2 separate regions of the Homo sapiens genome follow, and region 1 is linked to region 2. The links come from fine-mapping of genetic effects on gene expression. A gene starts in region 2. The other region holds a variant in brackets. All regions are shown on one strand. Distances are from middle to middle.

Evidence for each region.
Region 1: its variant is fine-mapped to the expression of PTCD2 in whole blood (TOPMed, PIP 0.97).

Annotation. Positions count from the first base shown.
Region 1 is chr5:72,224,893-72,236,826 of GRCh38, reverse strand. MRPS27 (mitochondrial ribosomal protein S27) reads left to right here. Exons shown (of 11, transcript NM_015084.3): 6 at 2,630-2,708; 7 at 4,269-4,384; 8 at 8,459-8,561; 9 at 10,628-10,770. Among named protein-coding and RNA genes, the nearest start is that of MIR4803, 61 kb to the right of the region's middle. RefSeq lists an enhancer at 2,271-2,565. The variant GC/C (reference allele first, on the strand shown) is at 7,408.
Region 2 is chr5:72,315,134-72,327,067 of GRCh38, reverse strand. PTCD2 (pentatricopeptide repeat domain 2) reads right to left here and starts at 6,695. Exons shown (of 10, transcript NM_024754.5): 1 at 6,559-6,695; 2 at 4,804-4,896; 3 at 327-456. The coding sequence starts at 6,685. MRPS27 (mitochondrial ribosomal protein S27) reads left to right here and starts at 6,828. Exons shown (of 11, transcript NM_015084.3): 1 at 6,828-6,919. The coding sequence starts at 6,847. RefSeq lists enhancers at 6,497-6,706, 6,767-7,096, 6,695-7,235, 7,236-7,777.

The sequences.
Region 1 (11,934 bases), 90 kb after region 2:
TAAGATGGTCACCAAAAGATGCATGCTTGCACGTGGAGATGGGCTGGCAGAAACAGTATTACCAGAGGTATATCTGGGTGAAAACAAAGACTCAGTCTGAACAGTAATACATTGCCTTTTTCCTGGGGTATAAGGTATGTTAAGGGAGGAACCAGGTAAGGAAGCGAGTAAAAGATTGAGCTAGGTCCCTGGATAAGTCCAATCAAGATGACAGCCTTGAATCTCAAGAGGAGGAAATGGAAGGCCCAGAGGAAGGAATGGATTAAATCTTGTTTTCTTCAGTTCAGAGTGTAATGTCACAGATTACACTCAAAGATTCCTATGATAGCAAAACTAGGAGGGTCTAGAATTTTTGCTGCTTCTTGAGTCTTTTAGTGGAAAGAACATCAAACTAGAAATCAGAAGATCCAGGCTGTAGCCCCACAGGCTCCCCTGGTTGCTGGTAACTTTAGGCAAATAACTGTATTCTTCTAGCTCTTAGTTTTTTCAACTCTAAGTCAAGTGGGTTGTAGTAAATCAGTGATTTCCAACTCTGGCTGCCCATTAGGGTCACCCAAGAAGCTTTTTAAAAATTGTAGATGTTTGCCTCTACTCCTGAAATTCTAGTTTAATTGATCTGTCTAGGGCCCAGGCATTGGAATTTAAAAAAATTTTTTAATAAGTTTAAATTTTTCTGTCAGTTTCGGGTTCACAGTATAGGGGAGAAAACATAATTTAGTTTCTTTCCCTTTTAGGTTCTTAGTTGAGACACTCTGCTGAAAACAAAAGTCAGATTAACAAAAGAAAAACAAGCAGAAGTTTATTAACACATGCTGTACTCATCACACAGGAAAGGCCTCAGTTCAAAAGCATTTCTATCTCAAGGCAGTGGCTTATGGCCTTACTGAATAGTATTTCAACCAAGGGCCATAAATCCTATACAGTGACAAGACGAAGGAAAAGTTCCAGTCTTTAAAAGGTGGGAAAATGTGGGAAGATAGTAAAATCTGTTCTCAGATTCCTCTGGTGCCTGCTGATGCCTTCTCTGGGCTCAGAAGCAAGTGCTGTTCTAGGAAGGAAGGATTTATGTGCTGCCATCAGGCAATTGGAGGCTATGGCAGAGTCTTCCCCTGCATTTTCAGTATCTTTAACTTAACATCCTCAATTATTTTGGGGAGAAATATTTTTGTTTCCTTCAACAGCAAAACTGAGTGGAAAGTACATAGATTTTCTATGTACTCCCTGCCCCAACACATGCATAGCCTTCCTCATAATCAACATCCTGCCCCAGTGTGGTACATTTATTACAATTGATGAACTTACGTTGACAAACCGTTGTCACCCAAAGGTCCTAGTTTACATTAGGGTTCACTCTTGATGTTGTACGTCCTATGGGTTTGGACAAATGTATAATGACATGTATCCACCATTGTAGTATCATCCCTCATCCCTGCCTATTCATCCCTCATTGGGTTTGCTTGTTTGTTTGTTTGTTTTTTAAAGCTCTCAGTTGATTCTCATTTGCAGCCTGGGTTGAGAATCACTGACCAGTTGATTTCTAAAATCCCTTTCAGCTTTAATGATTTGTCATCCTAAAATATTTTGGTTTTTAGCCTGCCCTAGGGATTAATACTGATTTGGATGACTGCTTTGAGAAATATAGACACTGGCCATGAGCTACAACCTTTAAAACAGTGGTTTTTAGACATTTTTCCATTTCGGCACACCTGAGGCTACTATATATAACACCTGGAAACAGTGAGTCAGCTCAGTGGTGATTCAGTTGGGGGTTAGGACTGTATCAAAATCTCTCAAGGGGATATGGATATAGTTTGGAAAAATTCCTCAGGTGTTTCTACTGGTTCCAAGAGGGAAGAATGGAGCCCTGTGGGGAATGGTGGTTAACATTACTGAAGAATTTGAAACAAATAAAAATGCAGCCACAATCAGGATCATTGGTAGTAAAATGAGTATGCATGAAAATCACAAGAAGCTCACTAAAAATTCAGGGTTTTGTGCCCAATTCCCACAGATTCTGGTTCTATAGGTCTGAGACGTAGGAATCTATATTGTTAAAAACACTCTGAGAAAGTCGACATCCTGCAGGTGCTAAAGGGTCCACATTTTAAGAAATCTGAATTCTCAAGTATTCAGTTGTATGACACAACATTCTAGAAACTTAGTAGCAAATATTTCTTGGCATATTTCTTGGGACCTTAAAAGCCAGGCTAAGAACCAGAAAATGCTGTGTAATGTCTGCTTTCTCATGAGAGTCTGTTTTTGTATTGTTATTCATACTTTATAAGAAGAGTCACTGAACCAGTTAGGGGGGTTGTGTGGGTTTCTTTTTTTCTTTTTTCTTTTATGTTTTTTTTAAGCTATGATGAGGTGTTAGAATTGGAGCCTTAGTTTTTACATTATCAGTTGTCTTATATCAGACTCACAACTTTCTCACCCTGACCAACAGTTCCTGTTACCAAACCTCATGAGTCATGGCTTCTGTTTCACTGTCACAGATGCTGTAAAATGATAGTCAAATATTTTAAAGCTAATGGTGGCAAGTTTTATTCTGAATAATACATAGGCATATATTACAGACTAAATTAGATAATTTTCTCTTTTTTTCCTGTTATGTTCATTTTCATTATAGGTTCAATATGGAATTTTTCCAGATAACTTTACATTCAATTTACTGATGGATTCTTTCATAAAGAAAGAAAATTACAAAGGTAAGAAACTAACCCCAGATTCAGTGTTTATAGGGCTTCCAGCTCCCAAAGGGAGGTGTACAAATGTAGGAACTTCCCCTTTTTTATTTCTTAATAACATCTCTTCATTACTCGTTTAGTCAGAAAAGTTTTGATGATTATCTTTTATGCAAAATTTTTAAAAACATTATTTTTATTTTAAGATAGAAAATATCAAAGTACATAAATGATTATGGAGGAAAAGTAAGTTAATTATACAGGCCAATCTAATTTCACTTCCCAAACTGACTGAAATGCAGAATATAAATAAAGGATAAAGTAAATTTATTTTTCAAGTATAATTTTGGATTCAGTAATGAACAGTTGGCAGAAATGAGATTTTTTTTTTCAACTGAATTTTTAGCCTATGCTCTTTTAAAATATTACTGGCTTGTTTGTTTGTGTAAAAGAAAATCCCTTCCAGGTTCTTATTTTTCTACTGACTTATTAGATGACTACCTGGTCTGCCTATCTCAGTTTCCCCATTTGCAAAAAGAACATAGAAATCCATGCGTGTGGCCTCATTCAGAACCATGACATGTGCAAAACCAGCTGGGTAGGAACAGCTGCAAATCAGTGCTATTTTATAGTTATGAATATATGTAAAAATTGGTTAAAAAAATAATTCAGTAAGTAAAAAACATTTGTTGTGCTTGTGATATGAACAGGCACTATATTTTAAGCCATTGTTAATATTCTCTGCTTTACCACCAAGTAACTACAGAAAGGAAATTGTTTGACTTGATTTTCTTGGCCTCCATCTATGTTGTAGAATATCAAGGGAAAATAAAAATTGCTTAAAGCCTGCTCTCCAGGCTTTAATGACCAGCATTAATGTGCAAACAAATATTTTATGTTACGTGTTATACTCAGGGGCTTATAATTTATGAACGAGCATTTCCCATTCCCTTCCAACAAGTATTTTAAACTGAGCCTTATTGTCCTTTTTATAGTCATTATTTTGCTGTCTTTGAAATAACACCTGAGATTTAGGGTTTCCTTTAGCATTTTGTCCTCTTCTGCCTTAACAGTGAGAAGGTACCAGAGCAGAGAATAGGGCAGTCAGACCAGCCTGTCTGCTCTGCCTGTCAGGGTGACCTTGAGAATATATGTGTCTCCTTTATGCCTTAGCTGTTCTAGCTGGTAGACATGATGCCTTAAATTTGCATCACAGTTTGAGCCATTTTCTGGTTGAACTGTCCAAAATTCTCTTGAAGTAGGTGAAGCAAATAGTATTTTATCATTATGACGATGATACTGGGAGCCAAGAGAAATGAGTGGTTTATTTAATGTCCTTCAGGACGTTGGTGCAGTAGCACCTGATTTAGTTCGTTCTGGTATGTAAAATAGAAGCTAAAGGCTGAGGAAAAACCTTGTTTGTGGAAGAACTAGGGCCAGAGCCTAAGCCCGCATATTTTACTTCTTAATTCTGCATTTTTTTAAACCATGCCCCACGTTTTAAGAGTGTTTATAGTTAAATAGAGATTTAGTAATATTACCTACAACTAATTTCCTCTCTTTTTTACTTTCATCTTCTGCTAGATGCTTTATCTGTGGTTTTTGAGGTCATGATGCAAGAAGCCTTTGAAGTGCCTTCCACCCAACTTCTCTCCCTCTATGTTTTATTTCATTGCCTGGCAAAGAAGACAGACTTCAGTGTAAGTGATCTTCCCTAAAGCAGTATTAAGAACTTTAGAAAAGGCAAGCAGGGGCTTGCTCTCAAAAGCTGGAAAAAGGTGTCTGCAGCTCTGTGGCCAGGCACAACCAGGAATGTGTGTTTATTGTATACATTTTGGTTACTGGTTTCTAACAAATGGAATTGGAGGTTCTTCCACTTGAGAGAATCTCAAAAGAAAGTCCTCGTGCATATTTTGAAACTTGAGCTAGGCTGAGTGCACCTCAGACATTCAGAAATGGGTCATTGGTAGTCACTGAGAGCTGGACATGGCATGTCAAAGAGGCAGTGAGGCAGCTAACGTTGACCATTACCTGGGATATTAAATACTAATTATTTCATTTGTATCAGTATTTTCCTAAGGTTTCTCTAGGGCAGTTCCGTTTTGGAAAGTCTAGAATATCAAGTTTTGGTTTCAGATCTTAGGTTCGCATGTTTAATCATTGCTTATTGTTGTCCTAAGAATAGCAATAGCAATAACTGATATTTTAAGTAGCACTTACTTTACACCAGGCTGTGTTCTTGTTTTAAATGTATTAATGCATTTAATTCTCACAACAACCCTAGGCAGATAAGGAGACTGGGGCCTAGAGATGTTACAGAGTAACCCCCCAGCTAGTAGGTAACGAAGCCACCTGGTAAAGCCAGTTAGTCTGCCTCTGCCATCTGCCCTTAACCTCAATTGTAAACATCAAAAATCCCAGTTTGGGTAGGAACTGAAGAGGTCATTTAGTCCAGACCACATTCTAAAGAGTAGATGGCATGTTATGCCTTTCTAAGATGAGTGTCATAGTCTTATGATATACCCCACATTCATTATTAATTCATTAAATATACTGTATTGAACACATACAAATTCCATACATTGGCAAGTGCTAGTTATGTACTGGTGAGCAAACATTTTCTGCTTACAATTTAGGAAGAACACAGAGTTTAAACAAAACAATCACAGAGATATAAAACTATGACTATCATGAACACTGCAAAGGAGAAATCTAAGAAAAGACTATATTATAGGGAGTTTTCTCTGTATTTTAAACTTAAATTGGTTAGGAAGGGCTTCCTTAAGGAAATATTTCTTAGGTTACTATTGAAGGATGACTGGTAATTAACTGGCTAAGGAGGGGAAGAACAGTCCAAAAAGAGGAAATTACATGTCCAAATACCCTGTGGCAGAAAACTTAGTGAGCAGAAATGGGCTGGAAGAAGATAGTCAGTGTAGTTACAACAGAAAATGGTAGGGAGGACGTGGGGTGAGAGGGTTGGAGAATGTAGGCCATACTAAGCCATTTTGTGTTCGTTCTAAAAACAGTGAGAAGCCCTTGAAAAGTTAGAAGCAGAGGGCATATAATAATCAAATCTGTGTTTTGATAAGGTCCTTCTGGCTGTACTGTGGATAAGCTATCAGAGCAGGGCAAGGATGGCTATGGTCAGACCATCCGAGAGACTACCATGAATCTCAGCAAGGGATAATGGTAGCATAGAGACCAGGATATGATGCAGTTAGAGAGTAGCCAATGGGCATATTTGGAAGGTAAATAACAAGATGAGGCAGGGAAGCAGGGGTCACATATTCTCTCCTCAGTTTCTGACTCATATGTCTGGATGCAAGGTGTTCCATGTGTTGTTTCCAAAAGGGAACTTTGGGAAAAGACTGGATGTTATGAGAAAAATCATTAATGTGACTCTGAACATGTTGCATTTTGAAATTGAGACAGTCACGAGATTTCACCAAGGAACTGGGGGCTTAATGGAAAGATCTGGACTGGAGATACAATTGTGGAGACTTATACTTCCATGTGTAAATGTTTGCAAATGAGCTAGAAAGCAAAAAGAAGGGAAATCAGGAATGTGTTGGACCACAGAATCCACAGGAAGAGATGGTCTGCTATGTAGAATGCTTCCAAAGGGGTAGGGTAAGATGAGGAATAAAAAAAGTCAATTAAATGCATTAGTGGCACGGGAGGCACTAAATCGTAACCTTTGTTTCCATATGAGTAATGGAGCAGGAAACCAAATTGGAATGGATTGTAGAATGATTAGAGGTATAGACAACTCTTTTAAGATGCCTAGCTATGAAGTGGAGAATAAAGCGGGGAAGTTGGGAGAATGAGGATTTGCTTTGTATTAATGGAAGAGGCAAAGCATAAAATGGAAAAACTTTGAAGGCATTGATGAAACCACACCTGAATTAGTCCATTATAGTGTCTACAATAGAAATTAAAGGCTTGGGCCAGGAGCAGTGGCTCATGCCTGTAATCTTAGTACTTTGAGAGGCCAAGGCAAGAGGATTGCTTAAGGCCAGGAGTTTGAGACCAGGCTAGGCAACATAGCAAGACCTCATCTCTACAAAAATTGAAAATAAAAAAAATATTAACCAGGCATGGTGGCACATGCCTATAGTCCTAGCTACTCAGGAGGCTGAGTTGGGAGGATCCCTTGATCCCATAAGTTTGAGGTTACAGTGAGCTGTGATCACACCACTGCATTCCAGCCTGGGCAATAGGGCAAGACCCTGTCTCCAAAGAGAAAAAAAGAAAAGAAAAGAAACTAAAGGCTTGGAAGATATCTGTTAATTTATGTTGACACATGAATAGCTTCATATAAGCAGCAGTAGTTCCAGCAGCCCCAGACAATGATCAGAAAATTTCTAAGACAGTCATTGGTTTGTTTTCATTCATCTTTTTTGAAGTCCTTTAGAAGTATAACCATCCCAGTCACTGTCACCACCCCTGCTCGACTCCTAACACATCAAAGGTATCTAGTGCTTAGATATTTTAGTGTTCATTTGGCTTTAACCCCTACTACAGCCTGTTACTGTAGCTCATGTTTTTCCCTACAGGGGGAAAAATGTTTGTAAGGCTCCTTATTTATTATTTGTCGGCCCTACTTTTCATGCAGTTTTAGGTGGGGAAAATCAAACTTCTTAGTTTTGAAAGTAAAATGACCTGGTTTTTAATTACCAGCTCTTTTATTTACCTGTGCTGCAGAAGTGCTTGGGGGGGG[GC/C]GTTGTTTTTCTTCTGAGGTCTTTGCTTTTCTCAAAGACTGGGGAGCAGCCTCAAGAAATGACACTTGTATTGCACAAAGCCTACTTACAGTAAAGAGGTTTGGGTGCCTATGAACATCTGGGGTGCCTCACTTGCCCGTGGTTGTAACTGCAGCCTGCAGACATTATTCATTCTCTGCTTCCTCCCTAATCTCTTGGTGCAGAGACCAGTGCAGGGCAACCTGAGCTTAGTGTTCTATGTTTTGAAGCCAGAGTTAGGGCTCCAGCTCTGTCCACTGTGTACTCATGTGGCACCAAGAAGATCACAGATCCCACTGGGGAGTTGCCAAGGCTCTCCCCTGGCCGCATTGCCAGGAAGTCCTCCAGTCATCGTTGTTACTAGTCTGCAGCAGGTGTAGCAATGCTTGTGTTTTTGCCCTTTGTTTCCCCCATGTCTCTAAAGACTTCATTTTCATTAAAGCGTAATTTTGCACCCTGGGCTGAAAGAAGCGATCACTGTTTCTGACTGCCTAATTTGTTTTTGAGAAGCACAAATCTATCTAAAAGCAATTTAATAGTGGTATTTATTCTAACACTCTGAAGGAGTCTTATCATTGCTAAATTCTTTAAAATTCAAAAGCTTGTTCCATCAGGCCACAGCAGTATGAGTGACTGTGGGGCTGACAGCATGTTGAATCTTGATTGTCTCGAGTGTCGGTTTAAAGTGTACTCTTTATTTGTGTTTTGTTTTGCTTTTCTGATTGTAAAAGAAACGCTTATTCATTGCCAAATTTTTGGAAAATAATAAGATATACAGGGAATAAAACCAAAATTACTCATAATTTCACTGCCCAAAAATCCATTAACATATAGGGTATTTCTTTCCTATATTTTTCTTTGACGTAAGTACCTTTTAATCCCAAAATTAGGATTATAATGTATATATAGCTTTGTTCTTCTTTGTTTACTTAATGCTATAACATGTTCTTTTCCTCATGTCATTGAAAGTCACATTTTTGTATAAAGTACTCATTGCTTAGATGGATCATGATCCAGTATATTCTGTTGCAGTGGGAAGAGGAGAGGAACTTTGGTGCATCCCTTTTGCTTCCAGGCCTAAAACAAAAGAACTCAGTGGGTTTCAGTTCCCAGTTGTATGGCTATGCACTTCTTGGTAAGCTAAATGATCCTTACAAATACTGTTCTTCATGGTTAGAATTGTTGCATTCTTCCAGTTCATAATAAAATTGTAATTTGATTTAAATTTACCAGTGAAATCCAATTAGCCTTCGTTTTTAGACATAAAAATAGACCTTGATGGCCTTACAGTTACTCCATAAGAGAGTAAAGAGGGTTCTTAAAACCTGCCATCACTGGCAAAGCAAGAACTAGTTCTGGTGGATATAGGTAATAATATTCAGTGGTAATCAGTCTGAAGAAGGGATAAAGAAAGGGATGTTCTGGCCCTGTTTAGGGAGACTAGCTAGTAGAATCTTTTCCAGTATTAACAAAGATCTTTCTGTCTCTTTAGATCTAAAGTCCAGAAGGTAAGAAATTAAGAGTTAGAGTTGAACTTGTATCTTTGGTATTGTTTTCAGGTAAGGGAAGATAAACTAAGAGCAGAAGTAGTAGCACTTCAGGAAAAGTGGAGTGGTTCATGGGTACCATGTGATTGCACCAGGAGGTGCAGTGGTGGCTTTCCTCTTGTGCCCTGATTGCATTGAAAATCAGACAGGTTAAGAGGACAAAGCCTTCTGAAGAGTGGCCTCGGAACCTGGGTTGTGTGGAATCTGGGTAAATAAGATTCAACCTAAATGTAACGTCCCGATTTACAGACGTTTATTAAATTTATGTTATTTCATTACTCTCCCATCGTCTCTTAAGTAGTTAGGCATCTCTCAATTATACATTGCTTCTGCTTACCTTTGTTTTTTAAAAATCATAAAGTTATAGCAGTTTGACTGCTTTTGAAGTTGATCTTTGCCAACAGAATGTAGTGTGTTATTCTTGGTGCTGATTCTGATATAATAACTCAGGAACTTCAGAGTTTATTGACTGTCTATCAGACTAACAAAGGAGTTGACCACTCTTTTTAAAAATAATTTTTTCCTTATTTGCCACCTACTTTTGATATTGATTTACATGTATTTTCCTTTGCTTTCAGATCAGCATTCAGGACTGTCATACAGCCTGAATTGGTCAGAAGTGACAGGGCAAAGAATATGTACTTTGTTGTGGTTTGTGAGCAGAGGCCCTGGTTCTTTGTGATAGCAGCCATCAGATCAGAAGCTCTTTGCTCTCATTGTGTCATTTGCCGTGCAGCCTCACTCAGCCCTGATGGAAGCAGCTGCCCAGAATGTAACTGCAGTCCAGCCCCAAGCACCTTAAAGGTCTAAAATTAGCTGTCGCCTGATAAGCTTTGTCTGTTTGTGTCCTACTCTGGCTTTCCCAAATCCTCCTTCCCAGGAAAGATAAAAGAAGGTGGATTTAAGACTGGGCAGCTCAAGGTGACTTTGGTCATTAGTGCAGCCAGGTTCTGTGCCACAGGAATACAGACAGCCATCTCCCTACCAGAAGACCCTGCTGTCTAGCATCCACATCTTGAACTCCAGGTGTGATGGCTTGAGGTACCCAGAGAAACATTCATGTCCAGAGATCCAAAAAGATCATGAGAACTCTGTTATTTTAAAACTGACGAAACTCAAAGGAAAGAAGGGAAAGATGAGGGGTTTTTTTTTTTCATAAGGATTGGGTGTTTTGAAGGATTTCAAAAAATGACAGACATTTCCTAGCAGGGAAAGTTGTCGGATGTTGACAAAATTTTCACAGTGGGAAAGCTGTGAGATTTCTTTTTCTGGGGAAGATTTTGTTCTTGAAACAAAAATTGTATCTCAGTTGACTTGTTTTTTAAGAGTATCCTTACCTAGAGCCATATATGTCAGCCTCTCAATTGCCCTCAGCCCAGTGGTTTATATATACATCCTCAGCCCAAATGAGAAAGAAGAAAACTAAGTTCATGTAATTTTGCATTACAAAATGGATACAGTGAATTTTACCACATTCGTCATTATCCATCTGAAGTGTCACCGAATGAGATGAGTCTGTTGGTACAGATTTAAAATGATCCTTCTCTATTTCTAGTGCTGCCAGGTGAACATTCACTTGGGCCTTCAGGTCCTCAGTCTTAGAAATGGTGGGAAGACATGGCTGAGCATTCTTTATTGTTCTTTTTGGCCACAGGGAAGGTGGAGTTGCAGCAAGGGCTACGGGCTGTGTACCACAACATGCCTCTGATATGGAAACCAGGCTACCTTGACAGAGCCCTTCAAGTGATGGAGAAAGTGGCTGCCTCCCCAGAAGACATAAAGCTGTGTAGAGAAGCGGTATGTTCTTCAGCTCTAAGGCAGTGAGATTTAGCCATCTGTTTCCCATAACCTGAGCTTTAAATTTGTTTTCATTGTCTTTCCACTACCCCTACTTTCTATATGTCTATAGAATAGGTATTTATCAAGTCGAAAAAATGCAAAACCACAAACATTTTCAATGCTCCTGACCAAAGGCACTAGAAAATATGATTAACATTGATTTATAGTTCATTGTCTAGGAAAAAAAAACTATTCCACTGCCTCGTCCCTCACCTCCTTACCAAAAAAAAAAAAATCTCAGTGGGAACTCAAGAGAGGGTAAAATTTCATTTTAAATATGTTTGGTGTTTTTGTAATACCATGTAGTCCTGAGAGGCTACATAGCATCTTTCCCCATAAAAGTCCTCAAGAAATGAATCTGGGGACCAGAGATGGAACCATCTTAAACCATTCTGTGTGAATGTGTGATGCTGATGAGATCTCGGTCAGATGTTTCTTTCAAAGTTCTAAGGTGTTCACTTTACCAGGACGAGAACACTACTCTCCCACCAGCCCCAAAGCTCATGCCTCTTGGTCACCTAGGACCCTTGATGGTATGAGGTTGCTCGAACTCCAGGAGACATGATGCGCCTTACACCCCACAGGCAGCTGCAGTGTCTGCTCCTGTCCAAACAGCTTTTACAGCCAGTGTGAGTCCTGAGAAGGACATTGGTTGTCTTGTTACCATGGCTTAAAGGTCACCGTAGAGCCACATATTTGTTTTTTCTTGACTCTGGTTGCTAGAGTCATCCCTTGGCTTTCATTTCAGTCCTGAGGTGGTCAGGTCTGGTGTCTGTCCTGTCACCTTATACTTATGTCTAGTGAATCATTATGCTCTTTGCCAGACGTTTATAACAAAGGATATACATTTCTCACTATACTTGTTTTAACCCTGCTGTAGTCAGTACTGGTAATTGAAAACACAAAATTATACATAAATCCTTTGCCAGGGAAATATTCCTTCCAATCTCAGCCAGATTTGCATTCTTTGCATTCTAACAGTAGAAAATGAGTTCACATGTCAGCAAGAATGTGCTATGTGTCCAGTTTGGATGTGATGTATTAGTGGTATTAAAAGGCCTTGGCATATTTTTAGGATTTCTGTTCTGATATGACATAGACAGGATTAATTCGTTTCAGGTA
Region 2 (11,934 bases):
AGAAGGAAAACAGAAGAAGAGGAGTGAATTTGTACATAATGAATTTGAAGACCTAGGGGATATGTCAGTGATAGGCTGGTAACTTCTTTAGACATAAAATATCTGCTTTTCTATCCTTAGCACCCAGCATATAGTAGGAACCCAGTAAGTGTGTGCTCAACAATAAGTGAATGTAGGTGTCTGGAGTTCAAGGTAGGCATCCGAACAAGAGATCTGGAAGTCACTAGTATAGAGGTGGCAACAACTTCGAAGTGGATCAGACTGCTCATAGAAAGGAACAGAGTAAGAAGGGATAAGGGTGGCAACATTCTAAGGAAATGCCTCACCTGTAAATGACATTTTTAGCCAGTTCCACATGGTCCCGAGACTCACACAAATGTAGTAAGGTTATCAACTCCCCCTTCAAGATGAGCTTGTTCTGGGTCAGTTTCTTTTTCAAGTTTCTAAAATACGTTTCTGGAAGAAAGCACAGTATGGTGACCATCACTCAGGCTGACTGAGAGTATAAGGAGTCTGACCTCAGGAAGATGGGGAAGCCCAACCCCGGCTCACTGCAGAGGGGCACTGAGAGGGGTTCAGAAACACACAGCTGCCATCACTGGCCAATCTCCTCTAGAACAGCATCAGCAGATGGCATCTGTCACAGGAGGCAGGGACATGGGCACAGGGCCAGGCCCACTCAAGACTCTCTAAAATAAAATCTGTGGGGTAAGAGCTCAAGAATTGGCATTTTTGATTCCCTAGGTGATCCTCTGGTATACTAAAGTTTGAGAATTACTGTTCCAGAGGCTTGGCTCAAATAACTGAATCTCTAGGTGACTCATGAGAAAAAGAAAGAAAATGTAGCCAGACACCCAAACCGTCAACTGGCAGAGAACCAAATGGGAAAACTAAAAAGAAAATGTGAGTTGAAGGTAGGTTTGTCCACAATGGTGGACCCACATGACTCACGTTTCTTTCATTTGATTCAACTTCACCTCTTTTTCATTCCTCTTGGTCTCTTTTTACTCAGCTGTTAGAAGGCATGCCAAAGTACTATGTAATGGGCAGGGGGGAAAACAGTCCTCCAAACAGCAGCAAACAGTTTTTCAGTGACAGAATCATTTCAGTGTCATCACAGTCTATCATTCTCCCTTGTCTTTGTATCTGATCAACCGTGGGGACAAAAACCAAAAGGAGGCACCTCTTCTTGTCATCAATAAGGGGCTTTATTCCCACCAAAATGCGGGGTGAAAAGCAAAGCAGGCACCAACCAAGCATCTGCTTTCCAGAAGGCAGAACTGTTGTCAGTATCAGAAGCTGCCAGGAAATAGCTATAGGATTTGTTCCAAGAACCCAGAGCTTTGAAGGAATGCTGCTGAAAGGAGAGGCACAAATACATCTAAAACACAAGAACTAGAAGCAGAGGCACTGTTCTCAATTTAAAAGAAAAGACCTACTAGGTTTGAGATAATGCAGTGGCTCTTCCAATTTTTATTTGCAGAACCATGTAACAGTTAAAGGCTCTAGAGATGGAAGGACCTGGGCTGAAATCTAAGCTCGGCCACTTGCATTCTGATGGAGACCCTTGCTCTGAGACTTGATTCCTCATGTGTAAATTAAGGATCGTGGTACCTTCCTCACAGGGTTACCTGAGATGATATATGTAAAGCATTTGTCATTCGGTAACTGCCAGTAAATAGAAACATTATTGTTCTCATTTTCATTCCTTGTGTCACCTGTTAGATCTAAGAGGATTTAGTCTATTAAATATTTCTAAGCAACTTCCAGTCTAAAAAGTCTCAAGTCATCAAAGAGATGACGTTACATCTTGTACTCCTTAATCCTCCTTAATAAACCTTAAGAGGCCGGGTGCAGTGGCTCAGGCCTGTAATCCCAGCACTTTGGGAGGCCAAGGTGGGTGGATCACTTGAGGTCAGTAGTTTGAAACCAGCCTCGCCACCATGGTGAAACCCCGTCTCTACCAAAAATACAAAAAGTAGCCAGGTGTGGTGGTGCACGCCTGTAATCCCAGCTACTAGGGAGGCTGAGGCACAAGAATTGCTTGAACCTGGGAGGCAGAGGTTGCAATGAGCCGAGATCATGCCACTGTACTCCAGCCTAGGTGACAGAGCAAGACTCTGTCTCAGAAAAAAAAAAAACAACACCTTAAGAATCCAGTATTTCAACAGATATAACTTGTGTTTTAAAACAAATCAATCAACATTTGTTTATCATATAATCATACTCGGAAGTATCCTTCTTTGTGTGTGAGACACCAAGAAGCGTAAGGAATAGTTCCTGCCCTCAAAGAACTTAAAAGCATTTTGGGGAGGGCAAGCTAAATTTATACAAAGCTACCTGAAAACAATGATGGAGGAGGTGACACATGAATACTATAAACATAATAAGACTCTTCTGTCCTGTTACGACACCTATTACAACTCAGAGTGGACAGAAGAGTCCTGTTACAACCTTTACTATTATGACTCAGAACAGACCAGGTTGGTGAAAGTGGAGGGGTACCAGTGAGAAAGGAAAGGGCTGAAATCAGGTTGGAGAAATGGAGGAGGGGGATATTCTAGGTAAGGAAATCAGCATGAGCAACAGAACAGAACTGGGAATGACAGGTGTGGAGGGAAAAGCTGTGACTAGATCAACCAGAAACCGTCCTAGAAAGGGCGGAGTCCATCACGGGAGAGCCAGGATGCCAGAGAGATGAGTATGTTAATAGTGTGGTATACAACAGAGTACCACTGTGGGCTCTCAAAATGATGAAAGGTTGACAGGACTTTAAACATATCAGTCTGACAATAGAGCAGATTGGCACTGATTATATTAATTGCCTTTCAGAACATGTACACAACTGCCACAGACTTATGAAGACTATGACAACTGGAAATCACAACTGGATGACATGAAGCCCTAACTGCAAACCTCACATAGATCTAAAATACCTGGGTAGAAAGAAAAGACTGAAGTGAAATCTAGATTGAGCCTACTCAACTGGGGATAAATATATTCCCCCCATTCCAAAGGTTTATTTTTTTGCCCCCTATATGGTATTATATAACAGTATGATTAGCGGAGCAGCGAGAGAACATTGATTTCTGGAGGACTGAATTGTGAGGGAATGGAGGCAGAAAGTATCAGGATGGGTGCAGTGGCTCACGCTTGTACTTTAGGAGACTGAGGCGGGATACTAGCTTGAGCCTGGGAGTTCGAGACCAGCCTCAACACAGTGAGACCATCTCTACAAAAAAAAATTAAAAATTAAAAATTAGGCGGTATGGTGGCACTGTAGTCCTAGTTACTCAGGAGGCTAAAGCAGGATTGCTTGAATCCAAGAGTTTGAGGCTGCAGCGAGCTATGATGGTGCCAACTGCACTCCAGCCTAGGTGACAGAGCGAGACTGTCTCTTAAAAAACAAACCAAAACAAAGAGAATGTTAATGTGTTAATCAGGAGCTCACAAACATCTGGCAGTGAGAGGAAGGAGAGCTGGGTCTATGGTTGAAAAAGTCAGTAGGGACACCAAGAGTTATTAAAAAAAAAAGGAAAGTCTTAGATGTGTTCATAAAGGAGGATCAAGGAGGTATATCCACAACCCCCAGGGACCACTGCTGCATCCACACACAATAAAAGGTATGAAATGCTGGGAAGAACTCTATGTGCAGGAGGGAGAGAATGAATGCACAAGATTTTTCAGGTGCTGAAAGGGAAAAAGACCTAGGGTGGTGTTCTTGTTTGTAGCTTTTTATAACAAAAATTTTCAAACATACCCAAGAAATGAAAGAACAGGATAATAATCCCCCTCACTAAGTGCCATTACCCAGCCTCAATCATTATCAATATTTTGCTAATTATGTTTCCTCTACACTACAATCCTCAAACACACTGGATTTTTTTTCAAAGCAAATCCCAGATTTATCTTTTTTTTGAGACAGGGTCTCACTCTGTTACACAGGTTGGAGTGCAGTGGTGTGATCATGGCTTACTGCACCTTAGACCTCCCAGGCTCAAGCAATCCTCCCACCTCAGTCCCTGGAGTAGCTGTGACTACAGGCATGCACCACCACGCCCAACTAACTTTAAAAAAATTTGTAGAGATGAGGTCTACGCTGCTCAGGCTGATCTCAAACTCCCTGGCTCAAGCAATCCTCCTGCCTTGGCCTCCCAAAGTGCTGGAGTTACAGGCATGAGCCATCATGCCCAGCCAAATCCTAGGTTTGGTAGTCAGGTTTCTCTTGTTTTTTAAGAAATTTTTGATCCTACTGACTTTTCTAGCACAGAGTGAAAAATACCAAATGTATCATCACACATAGTACTGTTTTGTTTCATTTGATTTCATTTATATATAGATATGTTTGTGTGTACTGAGATGCAACATAAAATGCATTTTTCACTGAAGGTTACATCAAAAAGTTTGAAAGCCAATCATCTGAAGTTTTTAAACTTTATTGTGCATATGAATGATCTGGGGCCTTTCTCTCTGCACTTCTATCAACCACCCAATAGATGCTGATGCCGCTGGTCCTCAAACCTCACTTTTAATGGCACAGATTTAGACAAGACCAATCGCAGCACTAGCTTTAATACTTCTCTGGGATCGTAAGAGAAGGAATAAGAGGAGAGCTGTAGACGTTGTAGCAGCAAAGTATGAAATGCAAGATAAATATAAGAGTTCACTATGAAACTAACAATAAATGGTCTCAACTTTTTCTAAGGCATAATAAAGTCACTGAAGGAGACACTGAATAGGGATAAAGACAGAGAAACTTAAATGACAGATAAATGACAGAATTAACAAAATAGATTCTATTACCTTTAGTGCCAGAAAGATTACATGCAACAGCCACTTTCTTTTGTTGAAATTCTTTTAATTTCACCACATTATCTGTAAGTAGGTATCTTTTAGCTAAAAATCAGAGAAAGAAAAAAGTAAAGTCATTTTGACTGTTTTAGAAGTTAGCAAATAACATGAATAGAGCTGGATTACCTCTAACATCTATTATAGATAATCCATTAGACAGGTACAAATATAACTGTACAAACTGTACAAATATAAATCCTGGGAAAAACAATTTCTGAACTACCAGAGAATGCAAATCCTCAGCAAAACAGGTTTTATTTGTGTGTGTGAAAGAAGCTAGTGATTAACCGTAGCTAGTGATAAACCTGTGTGGGGACTGGTTGACAGGAAGTTGGGATTTGAAGTACAAATGGGCATTTGCCATCGGTTAAGGGTATCAAGGGCATTTAAAAAAAAAACTAATAACATTTAAATGCAAAACAGGCATATTTAGTTTTGGTTTATCCAGGGAGAAGCACAGTGTAGTGGAAAAAGCTGCAGCATGACCACTGGAACTCCCAGTTTTGTCCTCTGTGAAATGAGGGGGTTAAGGCCTCTCAGATGTGGACTCAAAATACATTTGAGATACATGGAAATCATTGATCACAGCTTAGTAGATTTGGGAAACATCATCCTTTCTTTAGGATCCTTGGCTGTGCATGAGATAAAACGGACCAAGCGTGGCCGAAGAATCACGCACTAACAGAGTTCTGTGAGCTGCAGTAACAAGGTAACAATAAAAGTTGCTATTTATTTACAGAAAGGCAGTCCAGTGAAGTGGTTAGGAGCAGGTTTCTATTGTTGGGTGTGTTCAAATCCCACCTCTAACAGTTCCCTCTGACTTTGGGCAAATTACTTAACCTTGTTCCTCCTCTGTAAATGGAGAAAAGAATGGTACTTCTCTTGCTGGGTGTTGTCTAGAGAAAAGGAATTAATGTATGTAAACTACATTAAAGTAATGCCTGACAAACATTTTTACTATCACTCACTAGCATCTTCAGATTTAACTCTCTTCATAGAGATGTTAGAGGATAGTTTTGAAAAATGAAGAAACGTGCCGTTAAGTCTTTTAGATTGTTAGCAGAACTGAGACTCCATAAGACCTCTGCTTCCAAACTCTGCAGAAAAGAAAAAGGCCGGGCGCGGTGGCTCACTCCTATAATCCCAGCACTTTGGGAGGCCGAGGCGGGTGGACCACGAGGTCAGGAGTTCGAAACCAGCCTGGCCAACATAGTGAAACCCGTCTCTACTAAAAATACAAAAAATTACCCGGGCGTGGTGGCGCACGCCTGTAGTCCCAACTACTCGGAAAGCTGAGGCAGGAGAATCGCTTGAACCCGGGAGGCGGAGGCTGCAGTGAGCCGAGATCGCGCCACCGCACTCCAGCTTGGGCGACAGAGCAAGACTTCGTCTCAAAAATAAATAAATAAATAAATAAAAGTCACCCAAGGCGGGAGGGATGTTCCTGAAGACGAACGTCGCCCCATCTGAGGGAGCACTACAGCCCCAAGGTCAATACCCCAGCAGTCCTTCGATTTGCAGGCACTGGGGGTATCCACGACCCCCAGTGGTCACCACTGCACCCACGTGCAACTAGAGGGCGAGGGTGCGCTCCAGGCCAGTGAGTGACTTAGGAGCTGTGGCTGCTCCACAGAGATGCTAGCTGGGATCTAACACTCCCTTCTCTCCCATCCCTCCCCTCCTTCCCTAGGCTAAAGCCGCGGATACCTCCGAGAGGGCAGCGGCAGCTGACAGAGCCGGAGCCTCCCACCCCAGGATACACCAAAATCTGCAGCGCCTGCAGGAGAACTCGATTCGAGGGCCGAAATGCAGCAGCCATACTGTCTCGGACCATACCAACTACTGGAACCGGGGCGAGGAGGCGGAGCGTCGGTCCTGTCGTCGAGAGCGACAAAAGGGATTCGTCCAATTCTGGGCGCCCCGAGAGGTCGAGCTGTAACCCCGCCCCTTCCTCTGTCCGTAACCCGTTGGCTGTTCCTTTTGGTACGCTCCAAGATGGCTGCCTCCATAGTGCGGCGCGGGATGCTCCTGGCGCGGCAAGTGGTTCTTCCTCAGCTCTCTCCTGCAGGTTGGCCGGACAGCTTCATTAGGCCCCTGATTATTCTGTTTTTTGGGTGAAGGGAGCGGTGGGCTTTCAAGAGGAGAGGAAACGTTTCTGGAATCTGATTGCTAGGGACGCCATTTGGGGTGTTTGGTAGTGCAGAAGAAGGAGACAAGGTATCTGATCCATTTCCTTCCCTAAAATAACAGTATGTTCCTGTCCAAAGGTACGAAGAGCAGTGGAAGGTTATATAGCATGAGGGAATTTGCGTATGATTCGCCAGATTTATGTGTTGGGGTGGTCGTGCTTTTGCTGACCACGAAAAACCCAAATGTGCGCCGGGCGCGGTGGCCCACGCCTGTGGTCCCAGCACTTTGGGAACGCGAGGCGGGCGGATCGCCAGGAGTTCGAGACCAGCCTGGCCAACAGGGCGAAACCCCATCTCTACTAAAAAATACAAAGAAATTATCTGGGCCTGGTGGCGCGCGCCTGTAATCCCAGCTACTCGGGGGGCTGAGGCAGGATAATCGCTTGAACTCGGGAGGCGGAGGTTGCAGTGAGCAGAGATCGCGCCACTACACTCCAGCCTGGGCAACAGAGCGAGACCCTGTCTCAAAAAAAAAAAAAAAAAAAAAAAAGGAAAAACCTAAATGTGTCCATTCCTGGGGCTGGGACATTTTTCTCCCATCTGAGGTTTCTTTAGAGGGACGTCAGATAAACATTTTTCCCACCACCACACATTTAGCTGGACCCCTGGTCTTCGTGGAAGAATTTTTCAGTATTAATCTCATTTTATCTGATGACCTAGAGCACAACTTTTGATTGACCTTTCTTTGCTATAGTTTTCCACGTGTAGATAATAAATGCTATTAGTTACTTGTAAAATACTTTGATATCTGAACTAAATGGCAGCCCACTCAAAGCCTGCATAGTGGATCTGATAATGAAAACATTGGAAAAAAGTTTTAAAGTATTTATAGAAGCCAAATTTGCAGTGATTCTAACCACATAATCCAGACAGACATATTTGATAAAAATGCAATAATCACACTCGATTTTTCCATTGCCGCTTATCTTCCCTTTCCAACCTACCTCCCATCCTCTATTTTTTTAAAAAGCACGCACTTCTTTAGGAACAGCCATTAAACGTCAATGTGAAACCTCAGAGTTGGCCACCAGTTTTCTGAAGATTAAGTGGCTGACCTGGTGAAAACGTTTAATGTCACACATTAGGCAGTGTTATGCACAACGCTTGACACCTTAGTAAGAATTAGCTGTTGTAGCTATTTTCTGTTTATGTGGTTTCCGTGAACAACTACACACAGAGGGCATTTTGGGAGACCTGTCTTTCCCCACAATCACCTCCCCAGCCTTTTTTTTTTTTTTCGGGTTTCGTTCTTGTTGCCCAGGTTAGAGTGCAATGGCACGATCTCGGCTTACTGCAGCCTCTGCCTCCCGGGTTCAAGTGATTCTCCTGCCTCAGCCTCCCGAGTAGCTGAGATTACAGGCATGCGCCACCACTCCCGGCTAATTTTGTATTTTCAGTAGAGACGGGGTTTCTCCATGTTGGTCAGGCTGGTCTCTAACTCCTGACCTCAGGTGATCCACCCGCCTCTACTTCCCAAGGTGCTGGGATTACGGGCGTGAGCCACTGTGCCCAGCTGGCCCAGCTTTTTAATCTCCCAGTTCAGAACTCTTGAGCAATGATCTAGATATTGTCCTGACTCCAGAATGTAGAAAGGTGATTACTTATGCTAGAATGAAGCATATGCTAGAATGAAGGCATAGAGAATAACAGATAATAAATAGAGAGTAAGCAAGTAGCTGGTATGCGGGAGTACAGTTGGCTTCCTTATCCGAGCATTCTGCATCTGCAGAGTCAACCAACAGCGGATCAAAATACTACAAAACAAAACAAAAACTAACAATAAAAAATAATACAACAGTAAAATAATACAAAGAAAATACAACATGACAACCACTTACATTGCGTTTACATTGTGTTAGGTATTATAAGTAATCTACAAATGACTTAAAGCAGCTTGTCCAACCCTCAGCCCAGGACAGTTTTGAATGTGGCCCAACACAAATTTGTAAACTTAACTAAAATATTAGGAGATTTTTAGCATTTTTTGTTTTGTTTGTTTGCCCATCAGCTATCATTAGTGTTAGTGTAGTTTATGTATGTGTGGCCCAAGACAATTGTTCTTCTTCCAATGTGACCAGGGAAGCCAAAAAAATGGACACCCCAGCTTAAAGTAATGCAGGAGGATGTTTGTGGGTTATTTGCAAATACTGTGCAATTTTATGTAAGAGACTTCTGCATTCTCAGATTTTGGTATTTGAGGGGGTATTCTAGAACCATCCCCCTGGGGCAGGAGAATTGCTTGAACCCTGGAGGCAAAGGTTGCAGTGAGCCAAGATCATGCCACTACACTCCAGCCTGGGCAACAGAGAGATACTCCATCTCAAAAAAATAATAATAATAAATAAAATTAGGCCGGGTGTGGTGGCTCACACCTGTAATCCCAGCACTTTGGGAGGCTGAGGTGGGTGGATCACCTGAGGTCAGGAGTTTGAGACCAGCCTGGCCAACATGGAGAAACCCTGTCTCTATTAAAAATACAAAATTAGGCGTGGTGGCGCATGCCTGAAATCCCAGCTACTCAGGAGGCTGAGGCAGGAGAATCGCTTGAACCTGGAAGGCCTCCGCCTTCCGGTTGCAGTGAGCTGAGATCATGCCATTGCACTCCAGCCTGGGCAACAAGAGCGAAACTCCATTTCCAAAACGAAAAAATAAATGGAAATTAATTTAAATAATTATAGTCTTTTCTTAGTTCTCCTTTTGAAAGCGTCTTTGGAAACCTTATTGTTGCCTCATTATTTAATTTGTAGAACTCAAATTTAGATATATTATTCTAGTAAAGATCTGTGTTCACAGTAAGAGAATGAACTGTGTATAAATTCACACAGATGTGTTTGTATTTGTTTATTTGTTTGAGCTGGAAAGTAGGTAGAGAATAAAAACAGCATTCCAATACTGTGTTTAATCAGCCCCCATGCTATCTAGTTGTGTTGGGCTTTTGGTCTGCTGTGACCTCAGCATAATTATCTGTCATTTTTTCTGTTTGTTTTTTTTTTTTTTTGAGACGGAGTTTCGCTCTTATTGCCCAGGTTGGAATGCAATGGCGTGATCTCGGCTCACCACAACCTCCACCTCCTGGCTTCAAGGGATTCTCTTGCCTCAGCCTCCCAAGTACCTGGGATTACAGGCATGCACCACCACGCCTGGCTAATTTTGTATTTTTAGTAGAGGCAAGGTTTCTCCATGTTGGTCAGGCTCGCCTCGAACTCCCGACCTCAGGTGATCCGCCCACCTCGGCCTCCCAAAGTGCTGGGATTACAGGCATGAGCCACTGCACCTGGCTGTTTTTCTATTTTTTTAAACAGAGTTATTGAGGTATAATTCACATGCCATACAATTCATCCATTTAAAATACACAATTCAGGCCAGGCATGGTGGCTCACGCCTGTAATCCCAGCACTTTGGGAGGCCAAGGCTGGGGGATCTCCTAAGGTAGGAGTTCGAGACCAGCCTGGCTATTATGGTGAAACCCCGTCTCTACTAAAAATACAAAAAATTATCCAAGCATGGTGGCAGGCGCCTGTAATCCCAGCTACTCTGGAGGCTGAGGCAGGAGAATTACCTGAACCTGGGAGGTGGAAATTGCAGTGAGCCAAGATCACACCATTGCACTCCAGCCTGGGCAACGAGCAAAACTCCATCTCAAAAACAAACAAAGAAACAACAAATGCAGTATACAATTCAAAGGTTTTAGTATAAACACAGAGTTCTGGAGCCATCATCACAAGCTATTTTAGGACATTTTCATTATCCCAAAAAGAAATTCCATGCCCATTTGCAATTGCTCCCCATTTCTCCTCTAGCTTTCCTGATCCTCACCTTTAGCCCTTAGCAACCATGAATCTACTTTCTGTCTCTACAGACTTGCCTATTCTGGATTGCTCATATAATGGAATCATATAATATGTGGTCTTTTGTGACTGGCGTCTTTTTTACTTAACATGTTTTCAGGATTCACCCATGTAGTATGTATCAGTACTTCATTTTTTATTGCCAAATACTATTCCATTGTAAGGATAGACCACATTTTGTTTATTCATCAATTGATGGATATTTGGGTTGTTTCCACTTTTTGTCCGTTATGAATAATACTACTGTGAACATTTGTTTACAAATTTTCTGTGGACACAAGTTTTCATTTTTCTTGGTTGTAAACCTAGGAGTGGAATTGCTGGGTGATAGAGTAACTCCATGTTAACATTTTGAGGAGCTACCAAATTCTTTAAAAAGCAGCTGCACTGTTTTATGTTCTCTCCAGTAAGGTATGAGTTTCTGGTTTCTCTGCATCCTCCCCAGCAGTTGTCATTATCTGTTTTTTGATGGTGGTCATTGTAGTGAGTATCATTCGTTTCTCCAGGTGATTTTGTTTTGCATTTCTCTAATGGCAAATTATGTTAAGCATCTGTCCTTATGATTATTAGCTATTTGTGTGTGTATACATATATATTTTACTTTTTCTTTTTTTTTTTTTTTCGAAACAGAGTCTCACTCTGTTGCCCAGGCTGGAGTGCAGTGGCATGATCTTGACTTACTGCAACCTCTGCCTCCCGGGCTCAGTCGATTCTCCCACCTCAGCCTCCTGAGTAGTTGGGACTACAGGTGCATGCCACCATGGCTGGCTAATTTTTGTGTTTTTTGTAGAAACGGGGTTTCACCATGTTTCCCAGGCTGGTCTTGAACTCCTGAGCTTAAGTGATCCACCCACCTCAGTGTATATATGTTTTTAAAGGTATACCTGTTTAAATCCTTTACCCATCATTCATTTGGGTTGTCTTTTTTTTTATTTTTGAGTTGTAAGATTTATTGAAATATTTTGGATACAAGTCTTGTACTAGATAAATGTTTTGCAAATATTTTCTCCTGTTCTTTGGGTTGTACTTTCACTTTCCTGAGATTG